Linked DNA regions of Homo sapiens: regions 2, 3 and 4 are each linked to region 1. The links come from fine-mapping of genetic effects on gene expression. A gene starts in region 1. Each other region holds a variant in brackets. All regions are shown on one strand. Distances are from middle to middle. Region 1 holds the start of AK5 (adenylate kinase 5). Region 2 overlaps AK5 (adenylate kinase 5). Region 3 overlaps AK5 (adenylate kinase 5). Region 4 overlaps PIGK (phosphatidylinositol glycan anchor biosynthesis class K).

The links.
Region 2: its variant is fine-mapped to the expression of AK5 in whole blood (INTERVAL, PIP above 0.99).
Region 3: its variant is fine-mapped to the expression of AK5 in whole blood (INTERVAL, PIP 0.90).
Region 4: its variant is fine-mapped to the expression of AK5 in whole blood (TOPMed, PIP above 0.99).

Annotation. Positions count from the first base shown.
Region 1 is chr1:77,278,570-77,286,714 of GRCh38, reverse strand. It overlaps AK5 (adenylate kinase 5), which reads right to left and starts at 4,696. Exons shown (of 14, transcript NM_174858.3): 1 at 4,342-4,696. The coding sequence starts at 4,401. RefSeq lists a silencer at 4,777-4,836.
Region 2 is chr1:77,497,184-77,505,328 of GRCh38, reverse strand. All of the region lies in intron 10 of AK5 (adenylate kinase 5), which reads right to left. Among named protein-coding and RNA genes, the nearest start is that of ZZZ3, 180 kb to the left of the region's middle. RefSeq lists an enhancer at 7,645-8,145. The variant TG/G (reference allele first, on the strand shown) is at 4,893.
Region 3 is chr1:77,427,469-77,435,613 of GRCh38, reverse strand. All of the region lies in intron 8 of AK5 (adenylate kinase 5), which reads right to left. LOC124904202 (a long non-coding RNA gene) reads left to right here. Exons shown (of 2, transcript XR_007066178.1): 2 at 2,427-2,881. Among named protein-coding and RNA genes, the nearest start is that of AK5, 150 kb to the right of the region's middle. The variant C/A (reference allele first, on the strand shown) is at 3,439.
Region 4 is chr1:77,166,916-77,174,915 of GRCh38, reverse strand. It overlaps PIGK (phosphatidylinositol glycan anchor biosynthesis class K), which reads left to right. Exons shown (of 11, transcript NM_005482.3): 4 at 5,521-5,656. Among named protein-coding and RNA genes, the nearest start is that of PIGK, 49 kb to the left of the region's middle. The variant C/T (reference allele first, on the strand shown) is at 3,569.

The DNA.
Region 1 (8,145 bases):
CCATTATGCCCAGCTACTTTTTGTATTTTTAGTAGAGACAGGGTTTCACCATGTTGGCCAGGTTGGTTTCGAACTCCTTAACTCAAGCGATCCACCTACCTCCGCCTTCCAAAGTGTTGGGATTACAGGCATGAGCCACTGCACGTGACCCCACCCACCTTTGTTAAAATAGTATTATGGCTCATCTTTGAATTCTGATTGTTTTTGTCCTTTGCATTTGTCTTTTAATAAACAATTAGAGTTGAAATTACGATCTGATGGAGTCATTAAGATAATCCCTTAAATTCTTGCCTAATTAGTTTTCAGTTCAGCATTCTCTGCCTCTTAAGCAATTCAGGCAACTAGATAGTTTAAAATGGAAGAGCCATTCACTTCATCACAGTGAGATAAAATGCAGCATGTGAAAATGCCCCTGGTCATTATTTATCTCACTCCTACCCACCCTTTATGTCTCTAAACCTCAGTTTCTTCTTTTAGAAAATGGGGGTAATAATAAATACCTCATAGAGTTTTTTAAGAATTAAATAATTTCATATTTGTACAGTGCATATTAAATGCTTGGCACATAGTAAGTGCCCAATAAACTTTGTTGGTTTTAGTTATTATTACTATCAGGAAGTCTTCTCTGAATCCCTAGGTTTGTCTGTGAACCCCTTCTTCTGTGTTCCCATGGTATCCAGCATAAAACATCATACTTGTCATTTATACTGAAACCATTCGGTTATGCAATAGTCTTTCTTCTAAACTATAAGCTCTTCAACAACACAGAGTGAGTCTAATTCATTTTTCAATCCCCAGATACTGATGCTTTCCCTGGCATTTGGTAGGTGCATATTTAACTGTTTTCCAATTGGAAAAAAAAAATCCCTCAAAGCTCAAGTCTAACTGAGACTCAAAAAAATTTAGGTCTGAGACTAAAAAAAAAAATTACTATTTGACATAGAGTAAGTCACTACGATATCCACTGAGATTCCAGAGGGGAAAAGAAACAAAGCATGATCCTGCTATTACTTTTTTGGTTCATGGTGTCTGATGTGTCACTGGCACTAGATTCTAAAAATGCTACCAGTTTGGAAATGCTGATTCCTGGAAGCTGGACTGATGTGCAAAATATTTTCCTTTAGAGTATTTCATGGAAAATGCATAAAGGATTATTCTTACCAATATACATTGTTAGTATACAAAACACCCTTTGAAGGGCTGACATCTGTTTAAATACAGTATTTTATTTTCAATTATTTCCTGTGTAATTTCCTCAGAATGGTAGGCAATTCTCACTAGGTACATTTGTTTTCTGAAATCCTAAATAGAGTAAGCTAGAGTGTGCACCTCCATCAGCCAAGTTCAATTGCAGAGGGAGCAGAAAAAATTACCCGGGCATCCAATTCAGTTTGTTTGTCAAAATCTGTCCCATATACACACACATTGCAGTTGAGCTTCTCACATTCTTCCCATACGCCAAGCCAGTATTAGCCTCATTAATAAATAAAAGCCTCTGTGTCATATATTTATTTGCATACCCAGTGCATTCTCAGCCCTGTGTGACTTTATTATCCCCATTTTATAGATTAGGAAATCATGGCTCAGAGATATTAGTGATGGCTCTAGTTTACTCAACTAGAAACTCCTAGGCCCAGGATTTCAATTCAATGTTTCCAATTCCAAAACCCATATGTTCTTCTCTGTACCTGTTGCAGAAACGTGATATGAGATAAAAGAAAACATGAGATTCTCTGTGCCCTCTGCAAAATGCCCTCTTTTTATCCCTACTATTGCCTGAAATGGGTGAACACTCTCAATGACTCTTTTCTGAAAATATACATTTCCAGCGTCCTTAAACAATACTGGTTCACCAAAGGGCATTGATTTTAAAATGGGACAATGAGCTCCATTCCTTCACGGATAATTCAAATCTTTTCTTCTAATAGCCAGCCACTATCAGGGATTGAAGACAACCAGCACATATTATTGCTCAGTCTCTGAGTGAACCCTTTGAGACCTTGAATAATCTGACTTTCCACAGTATTCAAATTGATTGCCAAATCTCTGCTGTAAGCTACAAGATCAATATACACACCATAAGGTTAGCCAGAATTAAGAACTCATGACAAAATAATAAGAAAGTGGGTTTAAAAAAGTCTAAAACTGGAAACACATTTCAAACATGAACGTACCAGAGATATCCCATATTCCATTTAGCTTACATGATGTCTCAAATTAGGAAAAAATCTGAAAAGGTCAGTTAGATATATTTACTTGTCTGACAATACGTCAATACAATAATCAGTCAGTTTGTCTGTAATAGCGTCTAAAATCCACAGCTGGGGCCAATGTCTTGGTGTTTAGTAGACAGCTAATTGTTAAACTTTGTACACCTAAAATATTGTGGTGGGCAAAATCCATTTTAAAAACCTAAAGTTTTTAGTTTTACAGTCTACACTAATCACATGGAGAACTGCCAGATTTTCCTTCCCTCTTGAGCTGCGCATAGCACAGATTCGTCTTACTGAAGGATGTAGCCTTTGAGGTCACCAGCAGTCTACTTCCATCTTCTCATTGTCCACAAGTGAATCTAAGTCCATTACTGTATTTCACCCAAGCAAGTTGACTTCCTTTTCTGGGTGTGCATTATTTATCCCATTCATATGCAGAAAAGTAAATAAGAAACATAAAACCTTAACAAAAAGGCCTGCCATAACTTATTTGCATGCACAGTGTAGATTTTAATAAACTATCAAACTTCTCTGTGGTTACCTTCCACCAAGGAGGAAAAACAGTACCCACATTTACAAAGAAAAAAAGATGTACTATGTAGGAATTTTTGCAATCACGTGGTCCTCCTACAGATGTTTTTAATGATTCTTTTAGAAGCGTAGAAATGAAATATATCTCAGTAGTAATCTTTGTGAGAAAAACCTTCGCCTCTTAATTTCCATATTTACTTTTTGAAAATAAAAACAAACAAAAAAAACAACTCTTAAGATTCCCACATATTCTCAAGACCTGTCCTTATGCAACACCACCTAATTATTTTCACGCAGGAGTAACACATTTGCTAGATTTGGGCTTCACATACCACGCTTGAGTTCAGTGAGTGGTTTACCTGGAAATCTTGACTTCAGATGACCTGAAAACGGTGGCTTATAGAGGTGAGAGAAAAGAAGACCTGTAATTATGGCAACCCATTTTAAAGATAGTTTAGGGAAACTGAGGCAAAATTATTTTCTCAAGTGGTGCTTTAAAATTCCTTTTAACAGAACAAATCCCCCAAACCGGGGGGAAAAACCCTCATGACCTTTAGTTTACGATATCAGTCTATCCGTTTTCAGAAATGGGGAACGAGGTTTGCAGTGAATGGATTTCTCCTTTCAGAGCTCGCTTAGGAAGCCTGGCTTGCTTCTATTCTTTTCTCCTCCTCCCCCCTACTTCAAGCAAAAGCACTTGAGATTCAGGAATGTTTTTAAATTCAAATACAAAGAGAAGGAAAGGAAGCCAAACGACCTGAGACAGGGGTTGTGGCTTAGAACAGACCAAGGTTCATTCCTCGAGCCTCCTCTCTCTCAGTCTCCAAGTGTCCCCCCATTCCCGGGTCCCGGTGCAGATGATGCTGTGCTGCGGTCTGAAGACTGAGCAACAGGAGTCCGCCCCCCTCGCAGCTCCCTCCCCGACCCGCTATCTCCAGGTGGGTTGTCGAGCACTGGCGAAACCTGCGGCCCAACCCTTCCTAGGCAACGGGAAAAACGTGCTCAGGAGTTCATTCAGCGAAAGCGCAGAGCAAGGCTGGGGGCCTGTCACCGGGGAGGTGGCACTTGATAGGTTGGGTTTTGCTTTTTGCATCTTCATCCCTCTCTTCCAAGCTGTCTCCAGGAAGGGCTGCCTTCGTCCACATTTCCTCTTTCCCCCAGGGGTTCCGACCCTCGACCAGCAGAGTGACTAGGGCTCTGGCTCCCTCAGTTTCGAGTCTTTACTCGCTGCTGGGCGACAGTGCAGCCACCTGACCTGGCCCTCGCCCCCAGAGAGTGCGGCCCGGCCGCGGTCTGCAGCCCACCCTGGGTGTCCACATCCGAGGGGCGCGATGGGAGCAGGCTGCTTTCAGAACCCTGCTGGAAGACTGAAACTTGATCTGTGAGATGCAGGCTTCTAAGCCCAGCCTTCTGACAAGGACCCTGGCAACCCGCGGGAAAGGCGACTACCCTCGGGGGAGCGGGCGAGTGCGCTTCTACAAGCCCCTTCATTACATGCCCCGTGTGGGGAAGGTGGGACGGGGCGCGGCTGCCTCAACCCGAACCCCTGAGATGCAGTCCCCGGATGCTACCGCCCGTCGGCCAGCTCTAGCCCTACCTCAAAAAGCTGAGGGATTTCCCTCCGGGCCAGATACTCCTTGGCATCGTTGGTGTTCATGGCTGTGCCGCGCGTGCCTTGGGGCGCAAGCGGGGAGGCTCCCGGGCTGCGGCGACCTGAGCCGGGGCTGAAGCTGGGGCTGGCAGAGTCCGCGCCGAGCAGCGGTGCAGCCCTCTTTCTCACGCGCACTCAGCTCAGCCTCTCCGCCCAGGCCAGGGACCCCCTCCGCCTCTCCCCGGGGGCTGTGGTCTCCGCGCTCCCGCCGCCCCCGCTTCGGTTCCAGCCCCCGAGCCGGAGCTGCAGGCGCCGAGCAGCTGTGCCGCGGCTTCCCGGGCTGCCAGGCAGCGCGGCCGCCAGGGGTGGGGCGCAGGGAGCGGAGGAGGGAGGACAGCGTGGCGAACGCAAGGCAGCAGCCGGCCCGCCTCTCCGGTTCAGCGCGCCGCGCTCCGCGCCTCCCCGAGCCGGGTCTGCGGCGGCTGCCGGTCACGCTGCGCGGGCTGGCGCGAGGTGCGGAGGTGGGGGCGGGCACGCGCAAGGGGTCGTAGTCATACCCCTCGGTGCGGCACCGGCGCCAGAGCGCGACGCTTCACTGCGTGCGCCGCCCAGGGATGCAGCTACCGGGGACCAGGTGGCCAAGGGAACAGGGTCGGGGTCTGTAGGAACCTGCGACCGTTTCGCTTCTCCGGACCTTGTACGCACACAGACACACTCGCACGCACATACACGGTTACCTCCGGGTCTCCGAGGAACTCCCAGGAAAAACCTAATAGTCACAGGATTTATCATTTATTCCTAAGGTTACGGATCTTTCACTATAGGGAGCTGTGGGGAAGGGGGAAAAGGGGATTCATGGTGTGGAATCCAACCCTTCAGATAATTTTTAGATCTTGAGTATCTCTATCCTTCAGGAAAGTTTTGCTAGCTGGTTTCGAATTTTTACCCTGTCGGTGTCACAAATCTTTATAGACTTTAGGATAAGGCCTTAGTGTGAGCCTGAAATCCTAATCAACTGAAGGACTAATAAGTAGTCAACTAGTTAATTATCTCCATGGAGAAGAAGGGACAGTGGAGGAGAAAGGTGGGTGGTAGTGGAGAGCTAGAGATGCTTAAATTGCAAATGTGTTTAGTAGGTGGGGAGGGTGGGCATCATTAATTAGACCTGAAGAGTGTGCAGTCCGTGGACAGTGTCGTATCAGAGCACCCCTGGGGGAATATGAGTGAGTATGAGTGGGTGCGCTAAGGCATAATGGTTAATGGATCTTCCTGCTGCAGACCATTGTTAAGGTGTAACCCATCTTCCTCCTAGCTCCCAAGATGACTCAATTCCCTGCTAAGATGTCTTCACATTGCCTATTTGGGAGATAGTCCTTGCCCCCGGAGAATATGATCTCTAACTTCCCACAAAGCCTAACACTGTAGGAGGGTGTGTGAGAGAGGACACTTTGGTAGGCACTGGTATCTGGGGTCTGGCTGGAGAAAGAAGCAACGCTGCCACTGCTTTAAAAAACTATAGAGTCTGAATGTCCATTTCAAGTGCTTCTTTGCAGATCTTTTCTTGGTTCTATTTCTTGTTCCGGAAACAACTGCAGCTCAAGCCTTAACTACAGCTGCAGCTTTGTTTTACCTGAGGGAGTAAATGAACTTTTAGCACTTGTGAACCCGTGTGTCATATGGTTGCCTTAAACGAGGCAGGTATTTCAGTTCCATGGAAATTGGTTTTTGCCCTTAGAATATGCCATTTCACTTACAGTCCCAACTTCTAGTATTTCTTTAGCTTATTTAAGATTGGCTATGGCAGTAGTGAAGGCAGTGTCTCTTCCCTATGCAATGATGCTTGAAAAGTACAATGGTCCGTGGCATTAAGGCTTCCTTTGTGAGCAGGCACAGTGGAGGTGAACACGCAGGAATGAAAAGGCCAGTTTCTCCAGGACTTTTCAAGGTCATCCTTTGCAGACAAGAATCTGGCAGAGCATGGCTCACCTGTCTTCCCTTGAAGAAATGCATAATTCTAAGTGTACTTTAGTGTTACCGGACAAGTGTTGGCAACTTGCTTGTAAAAAGAGAATGGATAAGAAAGACTGCACTGCACTAAAAATTGTAGATAGCCTGAAAAATGTAGTAAATGGTGATACGGCAAGTTTTCAAGTAGCCTTATGCAGAGACAATTAGTGTATTTTGGTGTGTGCCAGGGTGGAGAGAGATGCGTGAAAGAGGAAGATGTTCATAATTACTTTTGCAAAGGAAGTTGTGGCTTTGTAGGGAGGGGCTACATGAGAGAGATATAATGCTTAAAAGCCAAGCTAATGGTTCAAAAGAGAGGAAAGAGAAAGGACAAGGAACACTAAATACATCCTTGCTGTGGGAAAGCTGGCCTCTCATTCCCTGTGATGAAATTCTATGTGTGGGTATATAGAAGGCTCATGGCCCTTGGCCCTTTGTTTATTTGGGAATGCTTTCCTGCAAGCTATAATGAATCAAAATGGTTACTGCATGTCGGATGTCTTCGGATAGACTCTCTTGTCATCACGTCTTGAGAGAGGGTGCTAGGTTCTGAGATATAGCAGTGAATAACAGACATGATCCTTGCTGTCAAGGAACTTAAATTCTATGAAGAGTGTGTGTAAGAAGTGCAGATGAACAATAAGCAAATAAAAATGCATAGACAACATCACATAGTGATTAAAAAATACAAAGAAGGACATAAACAAGAACATATCAGTTAGTGATAACTGATGACGAAAATCAGAGTTGTTGATTTGAAACAAGGGGGCAGAGGCTCCAGGTCTGTTCTGTGGAAGCAGCTGAGGAAATGGGAGTAAGAATAACCATTAGGGGCCGGGCACGGTGGCTCACGCCTGTAATCTCAGCACTTTGGGAGGCCGAGGAGGGAGGATCACGAGGTCAGGAGATCAAGACCATTCTGGCTAACACGGTGAAAACCCGTCTCTACTAAAAATACAAAAAATTAGCCGGGAGTGGTAGCGAGCACCTGTAGTCCCAGCTACTCGGGAGGCTGAGGCAGGAGAATGGCGTGAACCCGGGAGGCGGAGCTTGCAGTGAGCCGAGATGGCGCCACTGCACTCCAGCCTGTGCGACAGAGCAAGACTCCGCTCCAAAAAAAAAAAAAAAAAAAAAAAAAGAAAAGAAAAAGGAATAACCATTGGGATGATGACTAGGACTTCCAAAGGGCTAGGCATCCTTCAGACTCTTGGTGGGAATGTTTCCCTGAGTCATGATAGGTACAGATGAATGGAGGAATAAAATATCTATAGCTGTATCTATAGAATGCTTAGGACTCAGCCAAAGAAATTTAGAAAGGTACCCTAGCAGGAAAAAGTAAACTTTCTATTTTAAAAAACAAATATGTTGAAGTCTTTAAAAATTACACCATGATGGCTTGAAAGAGTAAATGCCATATATAGAGATTCCTGATTTACCATGTAGGAGTATGTTTAGGTGCTGAGAAAATCTAGCTCAAGCAATGTCTTCGTAATGTCTAGAAATATAATGGTGTATAAATACATGATTTACGAGTCACAATGAAAATAGTGTTTTATGATAATTCATTCAGTCAACAGATATTTCTTGTGCATCTCCTGTGTGCCAGGCATCGCTGGCACTGCTGTGCTGTCAGGCGCGTAGGTGAATAAAACACATGCATGGAGCATTTATCTAGGAGCAGGAGATAATTTGCAACAGATATAATAAACAAGTATATGAAATTGTTGTTAGATGGTGATAAATACCATGGGAAAAGGAAAAGTAGAGGAGGGTAAGGAGAACTAGAAGGCTGGCTTCAGTTTT
Region 2 (8,145 bases), 220 kb before region 1:
AGCTTGTTGATGGAAAATAAGTATCTTACTGTTCCAAGGTCATTTCCAGCACTATCACCCTAACTTTTGTCTTTGTCAGAGAACTTCGAGATTATCTGTGCTTGCAGTCTATTTGTGCACAGTAAAGGGAAGTGAGACATTCAGGGCAAATGTTAGCTGGATTACATCTGAGGTTTTATGTTCAATTCTAGACCACATCACGGAAACTGGAAGTCTTACACATTGTGATGGGAACATAAAACGGGCACAACTGTTTTGAAGGGCAATTTGGCAATATAAGTAAACAAATCTTAAAAGTTTAATTCATATCTGTGAATTTTACCGTAAGAGAAAAAAATCACTGTTTTAGGACACAGATATTCATTACAGAATTTTTAATAAAAGCAAAAGTTGAAAAAATAATGTATTATGACAACACAATCATAGGTATAAACTGAATAAATTCTATTACAGCAAAATAAAGGAATAGGATGCAGTCATTAAAATGATGTGCTGAAAGAAGACAGCTAGAAAATAATATATACAGTTATATAGTGTGATTCCATCTATGGAAGTTAAAAAATGCCTATGGTAGTCCTTGCAGGGAGTAGTGATGAGGAGGAGACACAAGGGAGATTTCTGAGGTTCTGGTCACGTTCAATTTTCTGATCTTCATCTTGGTAAGACACATGCGTCCAATTAGTGAAATTTCATCAAACAGAATACTTAAGACTTGTGCACTTTTCTGTTTTTGTATTTCGGTTGAATTACAAAAGAACTTTAAAAAATGACATGGCATATTCAGGAATACTATCTTGGAAAGATGCCCATGAGGTTTTGTTAAGTATAAAAAGTAGGTTTTTAAATTATATGATCTCATTCTGATGAAAAATGTATATTAAAAAAAATATATATATACACAGAAAAAAACTAAGAGGAATATAAATCAAAATACTAATAGTATTCATTCCCAGGTATTGGGCTGTTTGTGATTTTGTTATTGTTGATACACGTTTTCTAGAATGAAGATGTATTATTTTTTGTAAAAAGAAAAGAAATCCTTAAATTTAAAAATGTTCTCGCCAATCTGTTTTAGGAGAGATTTGGGCTGCATGTGTCTAAAGAGACATGACTTAGGGGGAAATAATAAAAGTAGAATTTATTCATTCATTCCACAAGAAAATGTGAGGAATCCACATGCGCTAGGCAGTGTAAGGACTGGGGACACAGAGACAAGAAGATAGCACTCTGCTCTTGAGGAACCTGCAATTTACAACAGAAAAAGCTGCATGTTTTTAATTGGATGAAGACATAAATCACAAGAAAAGTGTATATGTCTTCAAATATTTGAATCGGCAGGGTGGAGAGAAAGCTAATTTTCTCTGTATGGCAGGACTAGACTAAACAGTGAAAAATTTTTTTCAACCCCATTTTTTTTTCTTTTTTTTTTGAGACAGTCTCTTGTCACCCAGGCTGGAGTACAGTGGCACAATCTCGGCTCACTGCAACCTCCACCTCCTGGGTTCAAGCAATTCTCCTGCCTCAGCCTTCTGAGTAGCTGGGATTGCAGGCGCCCGCCACCACACCTGGCTCATTTTTTTGGTATATTTAGTAGAGACAGGGTTTCACCATGTTGGCTAGGCTGGTCTCGAACTCCTGACCTCAGGTGATCCGTCTGCCTCGGCCTCCCAAAGTGCTGGGATTATAGGTTTGAGCCACTGTGCCCGGCCTCCACCCCAATTTTTAATAAAACCTTATAGACAAATCTATCCAGTCTTAATCAGTTTAACCATAAGGTGAGCTTCTCATAAACCTTTTATAACCCTTTACAAATTCTTGTTAAAGAGCAGATCCATGCTCTAAGAAAACCATGTTGTGCTTTATTCCAAAAGCATGGAAAAAACTGAATAATACCCCTTTAAATTTAGCCAATATGTTCATACACAGAATCTCTTTTACAATTAATTTTTCACAAACCTTCCAAAACTTGCTCAAACATTTAGGTTTATCATATCTAATTTAAAACAATCCTTTAGCCCTCTAAACTAGGCAAAAATGTACATTCCCGTATCTTCTTATAATCTTTTACTAAAAGCACATTTCACTTCCTCACAGGCCTGGCATGTGAAACTGATGGTTTTTAGTAGTCTTAATTACATGTTACAATGTTAACTCTCAGCAATTTTTATCTTTGGTGAAAAACCTGATAGGTGATTTTAATTATGTACTAGATATAGAGCCTAGGACACCAGACAGAAATGCCTAAATATTGGAATTTCTGACAGAGCAGGTTTTGACGCAGTCTTAGGAAGACTTTCCTATGGACAACAGATGCCCAATAGAAACACACCATCTCCTCTGCTGGGGAGACCAAGTGGATGCAGCCAGCGTCTTCTACTAGGGCTCAAGGCTAGGACAGTGCCACCTGAGTTCACCTATACCACAGCAGGGTGTGAGAGGGGGTGGCATTCCTGGGGCTTTGGTGAGTAGTCCAAGAGGGATTGTTGGGCAGCTCCAAAAGAAGGACTTCAAAAGCAGGGGTGCAGCTTCTGCCTACTTGCTATGTTCTCACTTTGAGAGTAAACTGTAGGCCTCTGGGAGGTGCAGCTAAACTCTGCTGCTGCCATGGACATAGTTGGTAACAGCCACTCCACAGATGAGCATCTTCTTCCTATTGTTTTGGTGAGCATGGTCCTACCAGGGAAGATTAAAAATCAAAACTTTTTTTTTAAAAGCCAAATCCACTTTTCCTGGATTTTCCAGGAGGAGGCCTACATTAGACTCTGTCATAGAAACATGTTATCTACTTTCTCCTTCTTTGTAAAAAATTAAACCTCATGATTTTTATTGTGGGCACAAGGCTCTCTGAAATACGGACTACATTTATTAGCCTCCCTTGCAGGTGAAAGTGTCCTCCTGACCAATGAGATGTTAGTGGAACTGGTGAATGCAACTTCCAGGCAGGTCCTTAAAGGGAAGAAGCAAGTTCTTCTGCCCCATTTCCTCTTTCCTTTTTAATGGGCTTAGGACATAAGGGCTGGAGCTTCAGCAACCATTTGGGACATGAGATAACTCTGGAGAAGCCACTCAAAGGAGCAGAAAAATATAGGGAACCTGAGTCTCTGAGGCCATAGCATGTCATACCACTGCTATGACTGCTTGTACCTAAAATTTACATAAAATAAATTTCTACCTTGTTTAACTTCAGTTATTTTTTTAAAAACTTTCAGCCAAACAAAATCCTAACTGATTCAAAGTTCCAAGTGGGGCAATTGTTATTAGTCATCTATTATTAATAGGATAGTGAATATCCTGACACTCAAAATACTGAAGTCAAGACTAGATAGTTATCTGTCAGTGATGTTCAAGACTCACTTCTTGACTTGATTAGGGAATTAAGCTAGACTAACCTCTCTTTGAGCTCTGTGCTCCTCCTGCCAAACAGGAGTGAGTGAAATAGGCACAGTCTCTGATTTTACACTATCTAGTGATGTTGTGCAGTGCTGGGGCTGATATTTTAGTTCAGGATTCTTTCTTCTTTGGAGAAGACTAGAAGACAAGGGCTCTAATTTTGTTTGACCTGAGCCCTACTTTAAATGTAAACCTTTTTCTATATTTGCATCCTTCCACCCTTACATTCATGGACAGTATTAAAAGAAAAAAGTAAAAGGAGAAGGGCTGCATAACAACATTTCGCTCAATGATGAACTGCATAAAGGATGGTCCCATGATATTATAATACACTGTATTTTTACTGTGTCTTTTCTATGCTGAAATACACAAATACTTACCGTGGTGTTATTATGTATTTATACTATTTGTTATGGTAACATGCTGTATGGGTTTGCAGCCTGGGAGCAATAGGCTATACCATGTAGCCTAGGCGCATAGTAGGCTACACTGTCTAGGTTTGTGTGAGTACACACTAGGATGCTCTCATAACAAGGAAATTGCCTGATGAGGCATTCCTCAGAATGCACCCCTGTTGTTAAGTGATGCATGACTGTATATGGGAGAATTCGTGGAGGGCAGTTGTCCTCCTGGTGTTTCCTTGCCTGCCCTGCTCACCAGCTCTGGACTGGTCTTCAGTCAACATCACATTCATGCATCTAGGCCTTTCAAGGTTTGGCCCATCTCCTTCCCGTTCCTGGGCTACGAGGGGCATAGCCCTACTGCTGTGATTTGCTCCTAACTTGGAATCTCCCTGCTTGCAATCCCTCTCTCCTCAGCCCTCTCTCAAACTTAGGGAATCCCATCCATTCTTTGAGACTCCCCTCGATTCTCAGCTTTTCTAGGAAGAGACTCCAACCATTGTGGTTTCTTTGTCCTCTTACCCCTGGTAACCTTCACCGAATGGTTCTTTTTCAGTTAATTCTACACTGCGCTGTATGGGCTCTGAAGTTTTCATAAGCATGAATTCTGGCTTCACTGAACAGATTATAGGTTCTGGGATGGGTAGGAACATAAAAAAAAACAAAACAAAACAAAAAACGAACTTCACTGTACTTATCACAACGATGGATAATTCAGCCTTTGCTTGTTTTTTTGTTGCTGTTGTTGTTGTTTGTGAGATGGAGTCTCGCTCTGTTGCCCAGGCTGGAGTGCAGTGGTGCAATCTCGGCTCACTGCAACCTCTGCCTCCTAGGTTCAAGAGTTTCTCCTGCCTCAGCCTCCCGAGTAGCTGGGATTATAGGCACCCACCACACCTGGCTAATTTTTTAATATTTTTAGTAGAGACGGGGTTTCACCATGTTGCTCACTCAGGCTGATCTCGAACTCCTGACCTCAGGTGATCTGCCTGCCTCGGCCTCCTAAAGTGCTGGGATTACAGGAGTGAGCCACCGTGCCTTGCCTTCTTTTGTCTTTAATGGACACTTTATCAACACATCAACTCCAGTACACACTCCATTCTT[TG/G]AAGGATGGTGACATTTGGGACCTGTATCATCAATATAACTGTTATCTGTTTTGTATTTTGACTTTGCTTCCTCATGGTGCCAGCTACCTAATGGTGGACTAAAACCTGAGTCTAATACGGAAACCGTGTGCTACTTTACTAAGCCAAATTTACCAAAAGCTGTATCTCTTTTTTTGGTTTTATTTATTTTGTGGGAAGGGGCCATAAAGACTTTATAAAGACTCCGCATTGATCCTTCAGGACCAGAGGAAGAGTTTCTTAGTTATGGTTAGTTCTTAAAAATAGCCATGCCTCATTGTTTTACCTCAAGCCTCTGCTCTTATCATTATGGCTCTGAGATGGTTATTACTGGAAGACAGATTAGTACATTTGCTTCTGATAATGGGTCTGTATTAGTCACACCTGAGTTTGAGGAACTTGGGGGGAAGTAACTTAATCTGAGCTTTCATCATTTTCCATTCATTCATTCTAAAGACATATACTGAATGCCTACTAAATGCCAGGCATCCTGATAGGTGCTGCAGAAGCAAACCAAAAAAAAAAAAAAAAAAAAAAAAAAAAAAATGGAAAAAGGGCATGGTCTCTGTCATCTAGGAGATTTAGTAAAGGTCACCTTCCAATCAACTGGCTATCACTGGCCTTCTAGCAAATCGTCCTCTGAAGAGGTTCCCAAGGGGTCTCTCTAGGAGTCTGATGGCTGGCCTCGGCCAGGTTTCTCACTGCTGAACATTCTCTTCCTTTCTCAACAGCAGATGTTGGAATGAGAGGCAGTCTCAGTGCTTGCCTCAACAGCTCCACCCAGACCATGCTGAGGACTTCCAAAAAAACCAGGGTGTTCTGCTTGTGGCTCTTCCCCACCAGCTTTCCCTGCATTGACTACAATAGTCCAAACAGGGTCATACGCAACTGGCCCAAATAGGTTCAATGCACTTTACACCAAGGTCGCTGGGCCGGTGGTGATGGGTGGATGCGTGGCAGTAACGCGTGATCCACTTCCTAGTTGAAGGGATTCCCTGCAGCCTGGCAGAACCAGGAGGAACATCTTCAGAGTCAGTGCCCCAGACAAATATGAGAAAAAATATCACCTGAGTCGCAGTAACATGTCACAGTAAAGCAAAACAGCTACACTCTGTTACAAGAGGAAAGAGTCCTTTTTTGCCTTAACCACCTGAAGGTTGGTTTAAATATGTTTTCATTTGCAGCTAAGAAAACACTCAGACTCCTGGTTCAGAGGAGCCTGGAGCAAGTTGGAAAGGAAATACTTTGTGAGTGTTACATTTGGAGGGCCAAAATAGTCACTGACTCCTTAATCACTGGCTTGTTACTCTGCTTCATTCTTCAAGGCAAAAAATGATCTCCTATGGTAAAATGGTCTCCTACAGGGCTGGGTTGTTGACAACTGCAAGAATGTGTCAGCTAGAGGAAATGGCAGCATATAGGCAAGTTTAAGCCCAGGGCTTCAGAGACACATTCTCATTTCAACTGATTGATCTCAGCCAACTACAGCTGGTTGTAGGTGAAACACCACTTAACAGCTCAGTCCCTTAGGGAGTGTTTAATTTTAACAAGAAATGTTGAGGAAGAAACATTGAGGAAACAAACAGGAATTTAACCTCTAAACTTCTGTTATGGTTTCCTCATCTTGTTCCTTTCCTTGTTCCAATTCACTTCTGAACCCATCCTCATCCTCCTTTTCTCAAGACTCTCTCCCTCTCATTGGATGTCTCCCTTCACTCTGCATAGAGTACCTACAGTGACAGGTAATGTTTGTATTCACTAGGAGCCCTGCTGCATGTGCTAACTCATTTCACTCTCCCATCAACCCCATGACCTAGACACAATCAATACTTCCACATGACAGGTGAAGAAACTGAGGAACAGTGAGTGGAAGGATGATGCCCAAGGTCACACAGCTGTACATGTAGGAGCCGACATTCGAACTCATGTAGTGTTGCTTTTGACTAGAGCCTGTAATGCCTCCCTCTTTATAAAAATGACCTTGAGTCTCTCGTTTTAAAAATATTCCACCCTGAATATTCACTTTGCTTTAAACAGTCTCTTTCAGACTCTTTCAGAGTCAACTTTCTTGAAAGTGTTGTCTGTACAGATCCCCATTTACTTACTTCCTAGTCACCCGTAACCGTCTGGCTTTACCCCTTCCCATTCCTCTGGAACTGCTGTCACCAGTCACCAATAACTCACCTGTTGCCAAACCCCACAGACAATTTTCATTATACTTTAGTGAACCTTTCCCAGAAGAAAATTTTCCTCCCTTGCCTGCTGTGATGCCATTTGCTCTAGATATCCCCCTTTCCTCCCTGTGCTCTTCTCCTCTGGCTCTGGCAGGGCTCTTGGGAAGGTTTCAGGTCTTAGCTCTCTTCCAGCCTCACCCTCCCTAAGTTCACTGGGTGACTTCTTGCACACACATGGCTTCACATCTGTGTCTATAGCCAGAACTTGTATTTTTGGTGTCAGCTGTGAAAAATCTCTTGTTTAATGTACATCACTGCTTGGATATCTCATAAGCATCTCAATCTTAAGATGTTTAAAACTGGCCAGGTGCAGTGGCTCATGCCTGTAATCCCAGTGCTTTGGGAGGCCAAGGCAGGTGGATGGCTTGAGCCCAAGAGTTCAAAACCAGCCTGGGCAACATGGTGAAAATACAAAATACTCTACCAAATAAGCCGGGCGTGGTGGTGCGTGCCTGTAGTCTCAGCTACTCCGGGGGCCGAGGTGGGAGGATCACCTGAACTTGGGAAGTCGGGGTTGCAGTGAGCCATGATTGCACCACTGCACTTCAGCCTGGGTGAGAAAGGCTGACAACAACAAACAAAAAAGTTTAAAACTAAACTCATCTGTCTCTCAAACTCTATTTCTTCTGCAAATTCCTTCTCTTTGCATGGCACTTCTGTCTCTGGAATTGGTTCCTTCCAGTGGGTTCTTGGTCTCACTGACTTCAAGAATGAAGCCACGGACCCTCGTGGTGACTGTTACAGTTCATGAAGATGGTGTGTCCGGAGTTTGTTCCTTCACATGTTCGGATGTGTCCGGAGTTTCTTCCTTCCGGTGGGTTTGTGGTCTTGCTTGACTTCAGGAGTGAAGACGCAGACCTTTGCAGTGAGTGTTACAGCTCTTAAAGGTGGCACATCCAGAGTTGTTTGTTCCTCCCGGTGGGTTCATGGTCTCGGGGACTTCAGGAGTGAAGCCGCAGACCTTCGCAGTGAGCGTTACAGCTCTTAAGGGTGGCACGT
Region 3 (8,145 bases), 150 kb before region 1:
AGTGCTGGCGCCATCTTGGCTCACTGCAACTTCTGCCTTCCGGGTTCAAACGATTCTCCTGCCTCAGCCTCCTGAGTAGCTGGGACTGCAGGTGTACGCCACCATGCCAAGCTAATTTTTATATTTTTAATGGAGATGGGGTTTCACCATGTAGGCCACGATGGTCTCGGTCTCTTCACCCTGTGATCCCCTGGCTTCAGCCTCCCAAAGTGCTGGGATTACAGGCGTGAGCCACCATGCCCAGCCTCTGTTTTACAGTCTATTTACTTTCCCTAGTTTCAAATTAAAAGTGCTATGTTCTTCATTTAGGATGGTAATTTCATTTCTTGAGGTAAAGTTTTCCTCTTGAAGCTTTTCAGATTCATATCTCAGAAGTACAATTTTTGCTGTATCTTGCAGCACAGGATTTGAGGTCATACAACACTGCCTTCTGCTCTTCCTGTCCCTCCTTGAGAGGATACATCTTTTTGCTTGGCTAGGTTGATAACTCGCTCCTTCAACTTTTTCGTCAGCTCCTGAAACTTTTTTCTCTACTTCAAGCTCTGCTGTTATGACCTGATGCTCAAATGTTTGTCTTGAAGCCCTAGAAAAGCAATGTTCCCCTCCAGTATATCTTGATTCTGCAATCTTGGTTTTTCTTGATATGTTTGAATTGTTCCATCTAACCAGGCAATTTCATGTTTTCACTTTTTTAAAGAGCCATGTATTCCTCTGCTCAAGGTACTAGTTTTCTTGTTTACTTCTTCTATGATATGATGTAAACTCATACCACTGGACCCACTCTTCTTGTGTCTGATTAAATTCAAGTAGTTTTTCATCAGGTTAGACTTCCAGGTTATTTAAACGGGCTTCCAGTAAGAAGCAATTATATTGCAGGAAGCTTTTTCTTTCTTTCCCCCTTTTGGTAATTGGCCTAAGATGAAGATTTTTGTAAGTTCCTGTGCTTCACATTGTCTTTATTATGTTTTTTGATTATTTAGGAAAACTGAGCTTTGGAAAGGTTAAGGATTTTTGTTGGTTTGTTTTATATCCATGGAACTTTCTGTATTGTTTTTGAAGTCTTTCTGTAATCTAATTTTGATCAAGTGTTTTCAGCCTCTTGACAGTTTTTGAAAGTTTTCCCTAGGGTCAAGTTCTAAGTTTAATCTTTCTGACCTAAAACTAATTTTGTGATTTTTCCAGTTGGGCCCTGGAGAGCCTCAAAGACTGTATCTCTCAACTTATAGAGATATTAAATGATTAGGTTTACTTAGTAAATTGTATGGGAAGCATTGTCAAACGATAAGTGATGCTAGATCTTTTTTCAGTTACATTTATGAGTATGTTATTGATATGAATGTTCCAAGATCATATAAAACTCTTAGAAATCTAATATATCAGTCAGAATTCTTATTATGTTGTATGCCGCAAAGTAACCAAATTTCCTTGTCAATTTCTGGTTATCATGAACTTTCATCAAATTTTATTTATTTATTTATTTATTTATTTATTTATTTATTTATTTATGCTTTGCACTCTATTTTTCTGATTTCATCAGATTTTAAGCCACGGTTGTTTTCTATCTTTTTGTCATCCACGGTTACTGGTTTGAGTTCTTTTCTAAAGACATACTCAATCAGATTCATGGAAAAGACTCTAAGAAGTAGTCTTAAATATAAGTTTCTAATAACTTTAAGATCAAAGTTATTAGATAATAAAATAAATAAAAATTATGTACTAAATAAAAATTTTCAGAACTCTAATGAAGAAACTAATAAATTTATGAAACTAATAATCAAGCTCAAGCAGGAAAAGAATTAATTACATGAAATTAAATGAACTGATAAAAAATTTTATAGCCTATTTATTTGAAACATTGCTGGTTCTTTTCCTCAATGTTTTGTTTTCCAGATTGAAGAAAACTTTTTGTCTTAAGCCATCTATAGTTTACAGCTGCTTGGTAAAGTAAACATTTGTGAACAAAAATGAAAGCATTTACTTTTTCTTCCTACCTGATCCCTCCAAAATGGGAAAACTATTCATGACAATATGATTGTTTACTTAAGTTTGATAAGAATCTGTTCTCTTTATTATGGGATACAAGTGGAAACATTGGTTTTATCACAAAAGTTTTGACTAAATTGTCATATTTAAATTGTTTATAGGTACTACAGATAAAGTCTGAAGTCAGCTTTGGTTTGGCTTCCTACCCTCAAGAAGTTTTTAAGTTTGAGATTACCGTATGGTCAAATCACTATTCTTGCTGGCAAAATTTGATAAAACTAAACATATTTTACAAACAAATTAGTCTTACTGTGATTATCTTTGGTAAAAATAAGGATGACTATAGAGAGAATGTTATGTTTCTAAAGAAAAAAACTATAATACACCTATTATTAGGCTGTGCCCCTGTGCATTGTTTTCAAGTTCTTCTCTTCTACCTGTAGATCTGATCAGAACCTGAATTCTCCTAATTTTCTTCAATATTTGGCTGCAACTCTCCAACTAAGAGCAAAAACTGCTCTGTGCTTGCCGCCTTAGAAGATGAAGCTAGACAACTTGATATAAATTTCAAGAGACAAGTCTCATACCCGAAAAAAGAAGGACAAGTCTTGTGCCACACAGAAAGTTCACCAATCCACCTGATACCATAGCAGAGAATTCAAACTGCAAGCCAAGAGAAGTTGATGGCTTCATGCTATAGGCAGCGTTTCCCAAGACACTCCATCAAAATGAGACTCTTGCCCCTCTTAATTTTTCCTTTCTTATGCTTACCTTTTTCTTTGGCAAGATAATGATGTAATTCAGATTTCACAATCAGCAGCTTCTGCTCATAACTTAAAAGAACATGACCTCTTAGGTATCTATTGTTTAAATAAAAAAAAGTCTACGCTTCCACTAATACTACATGTTATACTTGGGTAAATTCCTCTGGGGAAGTTGAGGCCCATATCCACAGAATTTTTTAAATGGGTCACACAGTAACAACAGATGTCATCTAATTCTCAATGGTCATTTGCTTTATTCAATTGTTTGTCTTTAAGACTGGATTCATGGCTCAAAACCATTATACAAACTTGGATTTACCATATTACTATTAATTTTATTTTATATTTTTGTTTTTAAAACTTGTACCTGTTGCTTGTTAAATTTCTGCAGAAGTACAACTCCTAACAGAATAATGCTGGCCCAGTGCTTTGAGATTGTGGCCAAAATACTATGGAATAGACAAAACTGAACATAGCAATAAATTCCAGGTAGACTTAGCCTGAGAGCCATTTCCTCCAAGCCTCCCTTGTTGCTCAAATGTGGCTAGAACGCTTTTGACACAGATTCCTACTCACCAATCACGTCTTCTGATATGGGACCAGACCAACAATCTGGGACACATCCTGGCACCAAGGGACAATGAAAATCTAACTACAGGATGATTGAATGGTGATACTTTCAGAAAAAGAT[C/A]TTGATCAAAAGGGGGGAAATGTGAAAGTTATCAGAATCAAAATAGAGTCACTTGTGTCAACAAGAAAAAAACAAAACCAAAAACAGCTGAAAAACAGTGCTTGGGAAGGCCATAAAGGGAGGATTCTCACGCACAAGTTCTTGATAACAAAACTACCACAAAAAATTCTGCAAAAACTACAACTTCACACAAAGGCCATCACAACCTTACACAGAAAACACTTCTTTGAGGACATCTGCCCAGCAATTGCCTTTCCAAACTTGGACTGACACCACCTTTGTTACTTATCCTTGTAGCCAAGGATAATTATCTCAAAACTATTATGTAATCCTCCTCATTTTTTTCTTACAAGACCTTTGTCTTCCTTTACCTCCCTGAATACACACATAGTTTACAATGGCACCCATATTCCTATTGCAATGCCCATTTCTGAATAAATATCATTTTCTGTTAGAGAATTTCCCTCTCTGTTATTTAGAATGACACAATTTGCTAGGATCAAATATTCTTTTAAACCAAGAGATAGCACTCTTGATTTAAAAGAGTGACATAGGGTTATATTTTTAAAGAAGTCAAATATGCTTCTAGTGCTTTTGGGCGTTGGCTCCTAATTGTTCTCTACCCACTTCCTTCCTAAACTGCTTAGAATCCTCAGCTCATTACCACTTATACTCTGCCAATGCTTTGCTCTCTGCCTTTCTGAACCACATATTTGCTAAAATTCCATCACTGTGTGAACCAAATTACTGACCTTCTCTGTGTCCTGCTAGAATTCCACAACACTCAGTATAGCGCCTATAAGAGTGTCTGGCACCTAAGGCCACCCAATAAACATTTGCTAAAGGAATGAAAAAAATGAAAATGATTGATTCGTCAAAATAAATTTCTAGTCACTAATGTCAAATGGGCTCTCAATTCACTAATATCAAATGAAATGCTTGGTAATCCTGTTGTGTTTCCTTAGCACATTGCCTGCTAGATTTCACAACAGTTCAGGCTTCTACTCTCTTGAAACCCTGAAATCTCAACAGATGGCTTTGCCTCTGGAAGTCATCTTACAGGAACTCTTTGACTTCCCACCATTAAATATACAAACCCATCCTCCTATCCTATCAATGTTCCTTCTGTCTTAACCCACACGAGACTCTTTTGGTCTCATGCCAGTCTCTCCACCAGGGCTGGAGAACCCAGTCCTACCACATTCAGATAGACTTTCCTCTCTCTTATACTTGTATATTCTCCTTTTCACAAACAAGTAGACCTTTCCTGTGAGTTAAAACATGCTTAAGTGTCTTCACTTTATAGCGCTTTGTAAAGTTCTCAATTTCCTCCGTGTTTCTATATTCAATGATTATTTTCCAGTCTCTCTCTTCCTTATCTTCTCAGCCACATTTGGCACTCCCTGCCTCCTGAAATACTGTTTTCTCTGGCTTTTGGAACACCACATTCTACTGATTTTCCTCATATCTCTCTAATGGCTTCTTCTACGTCTTTCTGCTCTTTCATCTTTCTCTACTAAGACTTTAAATTTCCTCGGTGTTCAGCTATAGAGCCTCTTCTCTCAATTTTGTTTTCTTTCTCTATCTCATCTCCACTCACAAATTCAAGTCCTATCTATATTAAAAAGGCTCACAAATTTGTATTTCCAGCTCAGATATTTCCTCTGAACACCAGACCTATATATTTAATTGCTCACTGAAATTTTCTACTTGGATATGTTAAGGCACTTTGAACTCAGCATGTCTAAAATTACACTCATGCCCTATCTTTACAGAACTCGTCTTTTCTCAGTGAATGCCACCACTGTCTACCCAGCTGTACCAGTTGAAAACCCAGAAGTCATCTTCAACAGCTCACCCCCTGTTGGCTCCCATATCCATTCCAACATGAAGTCCTGTTGACTTTCGTCACAAGTTCTTCTCAAATACACCTCTTTCTCTCTGTCCCCTTTTTTACTCCAGTGTCACCATCAACTCTTGTTTGGACCACTGCAGCCTCCCACTCTGGACTCCATAGATGCCTTGTTTTTTTGTTTTTTTTTTTTGAACTCCATAGATTGCTTTTCTCCAATGTGTTTTCCACATTGCAGCCAGAAAAATGTTTTAAAAAATAAACACAAATATAATTATGTCAACACACTCTCCTCCCTCCTCAGAAACCCCAACTCTTCAAGGTTCCCCATTGCTCTTAGGATAAAGTCAAAACCCCTAACCTGCTCTACAAAGCCCTACTTTCCAGGCTCATCTGCACTCCAGCTATCCTGGTCTTCTTTTGGATGCCATGCTTCTTCCTGCTTCATCCTGCTATTTCCTCTTTTTGAACATCCCTTTCTCTTCTCCCCAGTTCTTTCCTGTTCTCATACATACTTGGTTACCTATGACCAATCTTACAGATCTCAATTCAAGAATCTCTTGCCCGCCAGGTGCAGTGGCTCACGCCTGTAATCCCAGCACTTTTGGAGGCCGAGGCGGGCGGATCACGAGGTCAGGAGATCTAGACCATCCTGGAGAAGACTTTCCTCACCTCACCAACCACATCTACACACAGCACCATGCACTTATTCTCCCAAGTACTTCACAGTTTTAACTTTATTTCTCTGACTATTCTATTCTTGTCTAGTTCTACTATAAGCTCTATGATAGCAGGAACTGTGCCATCTTTTGCCCACCAATGTATCCCCAGCACCTCATATAGAGTCTGGCACATTGAATTTACAAGAAAAAAACAACCCCATCAAAAAGTGGGCAAAGGATATGAACAGACACTTCTCAAAAGAAGACATTTATGCAGCCAAAAGACACATGAAAAAGTGCTCATCATCACTGGCCATTGGAGAAATGAAAATCAAAACCACAATGAGATACCATCTCACACCAGTTAGAATGGCGATCATTAAAAAGTCAGGAAACAACAGGTGCTGGAGAGGATGTGGAGAAATAGGAACACTTTTACACTGTTGGTGGGATTGTAAACTAGTTCAACCATTGTGGAAGTCAGTGTGGCGATTCCTCAGGGATCTAGAACTAGAAATACCATTTGACCCAGCCATCCCATTACTGGGTATATACCCAAAGGATTATAAATCATGCAGCTATAAAGACACACACACACACATATGTTTATTGTGGCACTATTCACAATAGCAAAGACTTGGAACCAACCCAAATGTCCAACAATGATAGACTGGATTAAGAAAAGGCACATATACACCGTGGAATACTATGCAGCCATAAAAATGATGAGTTCATGTCCTTTGTAGGGACATGGATGAAGCTGGAAACCATCATTCTCAGCAAACTATCGCAAGGACAAAAAACCAAACACCGCATGTTCTCACTCATAGGTGGGAATTGAACAATGAGAACACATGGACACAGGAAGGGGAACATCACACACTGGGGCCTGTTGTGGGGTGAGGGGAGGGGGTAGGGGTAGCATTTGGAGATATACCTAATGTTAAATGACAAGTTACTGGGCGCAGTACACCAACATGGCACATGTATACATACGTAACTAACCTGCACGTTGTGCACATGTACCCTAAAACTTAAAGTATAATTAAAAAAATTAAAAAAAAAAGAACTTGGATAGAGCATAAACCTGAAGACAAGCTGCACACCTCCTCCTTTGAAGCTGGTTGAATGGACAAAGGTACAAATAAGCCTAATAATGGAGTGGAAGGCCTGGGCTATCACCTTCATCAGTGTTTTTGGTTTTGGTTTTTCATCCTATGGGAAAAAGTCAGTACTTTTATTGATGGGGCATTTGTTCCTCTGGATAGCTGAAGCTGCAGAAGTGTGGCTTCAGGTTTTGAGAACCTAAGTGATAGTTTTCTCTGTGTTGAGCAGGTATTTTCAATGAACAAAAAAGTACACAGAGAAGAGGAACAGCACACATTTTCCTTGGTGTGACCTTTGTCAATCTGGTGTCATTTTCAGATTTAGTGTGTGGGCTCAGCAACTCTACACACTCTGCTCAGACCATTAGCAGAAGTTTTACATTTTAATGGAGTCCAGATTATGCACTTTTTCTTTTGTGGATTATACCTTTGGTGCTATATCTAAAAAGCCACTGTCATTAATACGATTTGGAGGTTCTGTCCCATCTCATCTCATGTTGAAATGTGACCTCCCCTGTTGGAGATGTGGCCTATGAGAGGTGTTTGGGTCATGGAGGCAGATCCTTCATGAATAGCTTGGTTCTGTCCTTGTGGTAATAAGTGAGTTCCCATTTTATGTGTTCATCTGTGAACAAGGACACTTTTATTTATTCCTTCTTAATCTATATGCTTTTTATTTTCTTGTCTTATTGCATTAGCTTGGGCTTCTATGTATAATGCTGAAAAGCAATGGTGAAAGGAGACATCCTTGCCTTATTTCTTTTCTTAGCAGAAAAGCAGGAAAGCTTCAAGTTTCTCATCATTAAGTATGATGTTAGCTGTAGGCTTTTTACATATGTTGTTGATGATTTTCACATCTGCACTTATAAAGATACTGGTCTGCAGTTTTCTTTTTTTGTAATGTCTTTGTCTAGTGTTGGTATATAGAGAATGGTTCATAGAATGAGTTAGAAAATATTCCCTCTGCTTCTATCTTCTGATAGAGAATTGGTATGATTTCTTCCTTAAATGTTTGGTAAAATTCACCAGTGAACCTAGAGCTTTCTGTTTTGGGAGATTATTAGTTATTGATTCAATTTATTTAATA
Region 4 (8,000 bases), 110 kb after region 1:
CCAGTAGTTGTAAGATTTTTTATTTGCCAGTTTTTAAGGTTTTTAATCGGATTACTGGCTTTAGAGTGGAGTCCTTGGAGGAACAGGGCCAGGAACATGCAGTTTCTACAGATTAATATAATAAGCAGGCACAGCTGGAAGGAAAAATAGATCTCAGAAATTAAGGGTCTCATTCTCATTTTTATATCAGATCCTGGATCCCATAAAGGGGGAATCAGCCAAGCTCCCATGGGTGTCTTATCTCTTAGTGGTGGGTGGGGACATTTCCATAACTTCTAGGTGGCCAAGAGCATGCTTTCTCTGATCCAAATGTGCAGAGCTGAGTATCTCCCCATAACTGCCATTAGCTATCCCTAAAAGTATATTTCCTACCTGATTATTACACACCAAAGCTGTCTTGTGATGCAAAGTCATTTCCGATACTCCCCAAAGTCGGAAACATCAGATAAAGCAATACAAAACAGAACAGAGTCTTAGATTTTGAGAGGGATCTATCCACTTTTAATTCCTGAGGTTTCTTGAGGAAAACAGAGGTTTTTCCCAAAACACGGTGTGTGGTGCCTCCTCTGCTTTTCCCAAGGAGTCCCAGGCTGTTAGAGCTTGAATATCCACTTTTAATTAAGCTGACTTTTAACTCTAGCCCTCTATAAAAGTCCTTTTAAATTTCTTACTACCCCACTTTAGCCAGGCAAAACAGCCAATATTTCTCGCTTAGAGAAAGAAAATTGTAATACAGTTTATGGAGGGGAAGAGAATCAACAGATGGTAAGTTTCATACAGATATCAAACCAGAAAGGACTCGTTCCCTAAGCCAGGAATTGAACTCAGGCCACCATTGTAAAAAGGCAAGGCCTTAGCTACTGAGCTATATTGGATAGCTTCCATTGCTCTTCCTAGAAGTCTAGAGCAGTCAATTTTGAGTTTGCAAAGGCTTTTAACTGCTCAAGATAATTTTCGGAGCTAGCTATGACATGAACCCCAAAATTCCTTTTCCCTGGAAGGTGGAGACTAAGAGAAAGTACCACCACATGATTACACAGTTAAGCTCCCAAGGACAAAACAAGATGGAGACCTCAGGCAGTTTTTTTGTTTGTTTCAGGGAACTGCAGCAACGTTTGTTATTGACCAGCTTGCTGGGCCGTCTTTAATAGTGAGCTTATGGGGTCCTAAGCCTATGTTATATTCCTAAAGTACTCTTTATAACAGAACCATACAGAAAGACAAGGACACCAAATTTGCTACAGCTTAAGAATAGCCTCAGAATCCTTTTTTTGCATTAATTAAAACTTTACAGAGGAACTAAACAGTGATTTTTACCATTCATTTAACCAGTTTGCACAGAGAGAGGCCAGAAGTCTGGTAAGAAATTCTTGCCCTTTTGCTGGCTTGTCAGGTTTCTGGGTTCCCCTTCCCTGAGTAGCCTCAGTGACCCTGCTTACCACACCATAGTTCTGGGGGCCAAACTGCATCACAAAGGAAAATAATGGAACCACAGGCAAAATTATCTCAATTTTGCAAGTTGCTGCCCAACCAGTTGTATGGGGGACCCGAATTCTAATATTTTCCATTCTGGCCAGAGTAAAATATGTGTGCTTTAAATAAAAATATTGAAATCTTTTTAGAAGTTTCTGCATATCAGTAGGCATCCGTAGATGAGACTAATTTGGGAGCCTCATTGTTTTAAATGCATTTCACTGCGTTGTTCATTTGGAATGTTCTATTGTAAGTTATCTTTAGTAAGATCTCACCATTTCTGTAAGACTTCACTGCTTCTGGGGCCTAACACTTATTTATGCATGTATAAGCCAGAAGGAACTCAGTTCTTCAGAAATTAAGAATCTCATTTTTACCAAAAATATTGGCTTTGCTCTTGGGTTCCCTTGATTAACTTAGCCAATGATTTCTTTTCCTACCTAAGTGCACGAGAAAAATGAAACAAAGGGGTAGAACACAAAAATCCCTGCAAATTTATTATTATTATTATTTTTTTCTGAGGCGGAGTCTCGCTCTGTCGCCCAGGCTGGAGTGCAGTGGCGTGATCTCGGCTCATTGCAATCTCCACCTCCCAGGTTCATGCCATTCTCTTTCCTCAGCCTCCCGAGTAGCTGGGAGTACAGGCACCTGCCATCACGCCCGGCTAATTTTTTTGTATTTTTTGTAGAGACGGGGTTTCACCGTGTTAGCCAGGATGGTCTCAATCTCCTGACCTCGTGATCCACCCTCCTCCACCTCCCAACATGCTGGCATTACAGGTGTGAGCCACACCACCCCTGGCCCCTGCGAATTTTTAAAAGCCAAATTTTATAGCCCCTGCAATATTACCACTTACTACCAGTTTCTTTCTGACCCATTCAGATGTAAGAAGCCTCTAACTGGATTCAAGTCAGTTAATTACTGGATCAAATTTGATCCTGCACCCAGGTCAGTTGCTGTCAATTCACTAATTGGCAAGCCCCCAGAATCACAGCAGATTCAGAGAGACTCCAATGCAGCCACATGGCGGAAGAAGATTAGAGACAAAAAAAGCGAAGTGAGGTACAGAAATTGGAAGTGAGATACAGAAACAACTGGATTGGTTACAGGTTGGCATTTTACTTATTTGAACACAGTTTGAGCACTTGGCAGTATATGGGTGGTTGAAGTATGGCTGCTGGGATTGGCCAAGACTCAGTCATTGTTACAGGTGCATACTCCTAAATTGGGTTTTCAATCTTGTCTACCTATTAAGTTAGGTTGTGGTTTGTCCACCAGGACTCAAATATGGAAGTATGGAGTCCTTATCAGGCCGTTTTAGTTTGCTTAAACAATTAAGGATGTCAAAATACAAAAAAAAAAAAAAAAAAAATTAAATGTAGAACCAGACTTGAAGCTCTTCTGTTAAACACAGCAGCAGGCATTTAGTTTTTGGAAAATAATGTCATCTTCAATGGGATTAATGTTTTTAGGGTATTATTAGTTTGCTAGTTTTGTTAGAATTTAATTTATAATTTTCTCTTGATTTCATAGTTTTGTAAGAACTATAAGCCTACGTAGTTTGTTTGCATTTATATGCTTAAGTACTGTTATATAAATAATTTAACACTTGGATCAAATGAGAATTATTTTTTTCTCTAGAAAAGAGTTCTGTACATTTCTTAAGTTTTAGAAACAGTGAATTAGAATATGTGGTTGGACTTCAAAACGTTTGAAATCCATTCTGTTTCCCAACTTCTCTTTTTCCGTATTATTCCAAGTACAGTGTTTTATAATATATTGATTATGTTAACAGGTCATAGTACTTATATTGAGGCTTAAAATTATCTCTAAGAGAAATGTTGATTACATTTATGATTTTAAGTTGAAGTTAGTACTTCTTTCTGATTGATATTGACATTATATAGCTATTGAATAATTATTTAGTTTCACAGAGTGAAATTAACCCTAAACAGAAAACATAGCCTAAAGAAATATTCTTTTTTTTTTTTTTTTTTTTTTTTTTTGAGGTGGAGTCTTGCTCTGTTGCCCAGGCTGGAGTGCAGTGACGCGATGTCGGCTCACTGCGAGCTCCGCCTCCTGGGTTCATGCCATT[C/T]TCCTGCCTCAGCCTCTGGAGTAGCTGGGACTACAGGCGCCTGCCACCATGCCCGGCTAATTTTTTTGTATTTTTAGTAGAGACAGGGTTTCACTGTGTTAACCAGGATGGTCTCGATCTCCTGACCTCGTGATCCGCCCGCCTCAGCCTCCCAAAGTGCTGGGATTACAGGCGTGAGCCACTGTGCCTGGCCAGAAATATTCATTTTTATATTGCCATTTGGAGGTCAATTCAGTCTTGTTTAACAAAGGAATATATGATTGATATTTATTTAATGTAAATTAATGATCTCAAGTTTTAAAAAAGAGAAGATGTATTTTCTGTTTTAAGAGGAATGACTCACTATTCTGTGAAAATGAATCAGTAACAGCTGAAGATCTGATCTTTGAACGTGACAGGGTTGGAACACTTTCAAAGTAGAAATCTAGCCAATTTTCAAGAAAAATAATGTTTCAGTTTTGAACTTTAATGTATTTGGAACATATGTAGCAGAACATTTTCTTCTTGCTGTCTCCTGCCAAACTAATTACGTATGCCACATTAATTTTTCCCTTATGCTTGGGAAACTCAAGATATGGTAGAATGGAGAATTTCCTGATTGTTACTCACCAGTTTTAATGGTAGAGTGAAGATGAGAAGTATCAAAGAGAGATTTTATTTCCTTCTAAAGAAATTATATGCAAAAATTAAAACATTTCATTCACTTAAAATTATTTACTGAGTACATACTGTATGTCAGGCCCTAGTATGTAGTATGAGTGATACAGTGGTGAACAGGACAGATATAGCCCCTGCCCTCAGAGAGCTTATATCCTAATGGGGGTGGTGGTGATAGGAGATGATGGGGATTTCAGATTCATAGATGTCCTGAAGAAAATAAAACACACAATAAGATAGAGTACCATAGCTAAGGCTGGAATTATATGAAGATCTGGGAGGAGTGAAGTCTAAATTTGGTCAGTAGCCACTTAAGTGGGAAAGGCTTGGCATATTCTAAGAACAGAAAGGCCAGTGTGGAGGTAGCATAGAGAATGTGGGTGGTAGAGGCTGAAGTTGGAGAGACAGAGACCAGATTATATGAGCCTTTTAGATGATGTAAGGAGTTGCAGTTTCTCTCTAAATGCAATGGGGATGCATGGAACTGCAGGTGAACAAAAATAAAAATAAAAAAAGATATAATGGGGAGTCCTTGGAAACTTTTAAGTGGGAACATTTAATAATTTGACTTATTTAAGGAAGATCACTCTGGGGGCTATTAGGAGAATGAACTGAAAGAGGGTGAGAGTAGAAGCAGGATGCCAGGTAGGGAGCTATTCCAGCATCTAGCCAGAAGATGGTGGTTGCTGGTGTTAGGGAAATGGAGTGGATTTGTGGATCTTGTGAGGAGTGATTGGCTTGGAGGTGTGCTCTTGTGCTAAACTGATTGTACTTGCTGATCAGTTGCATGTTTTTATACTCAAGCATTTGGGATTCTGAAAGTTAAATTCTTTGGGACATCATAGTTTAACGTGGACTCTGTAAGTCTTGAGAATGTAAAATTTTACTAAAAAATATTTTTGATGCTTAAGGAAGACAGTTTCTTTAGCTTCCCTTTGCTATGTGGCATAAAGTATACATTGTTCAGAAAAACATTGTAACTTGAAATTCTGTTCATAAGTTTATGCCAGATTGCGCCAATTTCTCTACTTTAAAATGTATCGCACACAAGGATATGAAAAAAATAATTAAAGTGCCTTCATAACTTTATGCCAGATTGCACTAATTTCTCTACTTTAAAATATATAGTACACAAGGATATGAAAAAAATAATTAAATTGCCTTCAACTATGTAGTTGAAAATTTTTTTTTAAGGAGGAGAAAAATGAACACAGTAGCTACATGATATAAATAAATTTGTGTTTAACTTTTTCCTTTTATCTAAATTATATATTTACTGGATTTTTTTTCCCTAGTCACATTGTCCTAATGCTTGCAGATGATATGGCCTGTAATCCTAGAAATCCCAAACCAGCTACAGTGTTTAGTCACAAGAATATGGAACTAAATGTGTATGGAGATGATGTGGAAGTGGATTATAGAAGTTACGAGGTAAATTCTTTAATCTAGCCACATTTTTAAAATGGCATTGTTACTTTTAGGCTCTAAAACAATGGCAGAATAAAATTGTCTTATTATTTTTCTTTAAATTTAATTGTCACTGAAGCCTTGATGTAACTTCTCTGAAGTTCATATTAAGGCAATGATATATAAGTAAAATATTAAAACATGAACATTTTATGTTTTTATCTAGGACAGAAAAACTTTATATTGGCTTCAATGTTAGAGTATTATAGTGAGTTTTCCTGTGTCAACTTTCTTTTACAGTAAATATATTTTATAGTAAATGTGTATTTTTCATATTTGACCTAAAATTCCAAGTTTATTAGTTTTAGTAATTGTATTAATTGTGGAAAAACTATAGTGACTATAGTTTCAATATACTTCCAGTGTTTTTTATGAATATGTGATAAGAAATAAAAATGTAAATGTAAAAAATGGTATTATACTCTATTTTCTCCCTTTGAAACTTCATTTTAAATATAAAAGATTGTGAATACGCTTAATATTTGAAGTCTTCTTTTATGAAGTCTTCTTAGATAATCCTTCCCCTTTTACCAAGCCTACCAAAAGTAAGACACAATTTCCTGTGTGTTCCTAGACCACTTTTGAAGCAATTTTAAAAGCATATCTATCTCCTCCTAGACTGTAAGCTAAGAGGGCCTGTGTCTCATGTATCATATAGCTGGCAAGTACCTAGAGCCTGGTGTTAGGCACTCAAAAATGTTGGCTCATTGAATTAAATATGTATGTTTAACCTTTTACTTGTTTATTTAGTCATATTTTAGGAAAATATAGGCCAAACATTTTCCTTCCTTGTTGGCCAACAAGAATTCCTGTTAAAACAATTAGCATTTTGCTGTCTTGCAGGAAAAATGTAAATCAAACAGTTTACACACGCACAAATGTGTATACATACAATTTATACACTCATGTTCTAGGAAATAGTTGAACAAGAAAACTGGATAGATTTTCTACTTTTTAAATGTAGATATGCATAATATATGACTCAGCTGTTGGCTTTAAATCAGTGTTTTACTCTCTATAACTTTAAATATGCCTTCAAAGAATCCCAGAGGGATAGAAATTCTAGATTGGGAAAATCTCGTTTAAAGTGTTATGAATTTTTTACATGTTAAAGATACCACTAACAAAATCTGAGCAACAAAGTGCATTCAAAAATTAAAGATACGTAATTTTGGGGAAATATATATGGAACTTTTTTTTTTTCTTTTTCAACCTTTATTTTAAATTCAGGGGATATATGTGCAGGTTTGTTACAAAGGTATATTGTGTGATGCTGAGGTTTGGGGTATGATTGAGCCTGTCACCCAGGTAGTGAACATGGAACTATTTTATTTCATGGTTAATCTATAATTGACTAAGTAGTTGTACAGATTAGCTGCAATAATGTAGTTGAATTTATTTAAAAATTCTTATATTTTGTATCTTCCCACAGAATTGCCTATGCAGAGGGATTAATAATTTTTATTTTTTATTTTGCTAGAGCTGGAGTCTTGCTCTGTCACCCAGGTAGGAGTATAGTGGCCATGTCATAGCTCACTGCAGCCTTGAACTCCTGGGCTCAAGTGATCCTCCTGCCTCAGCCTCCTGAGTAGCAGGGACTACAGGTGTGCACCACCTTGCCTGGCTAATTTATTTTATTTTTCCAGAGATGGGGGTCTTACTAGGTTGTCCAGGCTGTTTTTGAACACTTGGCCTCAGGTGATCCTCCTGCCTCAGCCTCCTGAGAAGTTGGAATTACAGGTGTGAGCCATCATGCCCAGCCAGATAAATAATTTTGCAGCTTTTTAGTAGTTTTTAAAGGCAGCACTTCACATAGCATTTAAAGTTTTAAATTCAGAACTTATTTTTCTCCAAGGTAGTTTTACTTTGCTTGTTTTTGTTTTTTGTTTTTTTCTAAGAGACATAGTCTTGCTCTCTTGCCCAGGCTGGAGTGCAGTGGTGAACTCCTGGGCTCAAATGAGCCTTCTGCCTCAGCCTTCTGAGTAGCTAGAACTACAGGAGCATGTTACCATACCTGGCTATTTTAAACATTTTTTGTGTGTGTGCATAGAAATGGGGTCTCACTATGTTGCTTAGGCTGATCTTGAACTCCTGCCCACAAGCAGTCCTCTTGCCTTGCCTCACAAAGTGCTGAGTTGATAGGCATGAGCCACCATGGCCTGCCTTCTTTGTTAGTTTTTAGTACTTTTAAAAATAGTAACAAAGTTACTTGGAGGTATATGTTTAAATGAATATATTTTAATTGAGTTATATAATTTTTGGGTGTTTTATTTTCAGTTGGTGCTGAGTAATATATGGAGAAAGAACA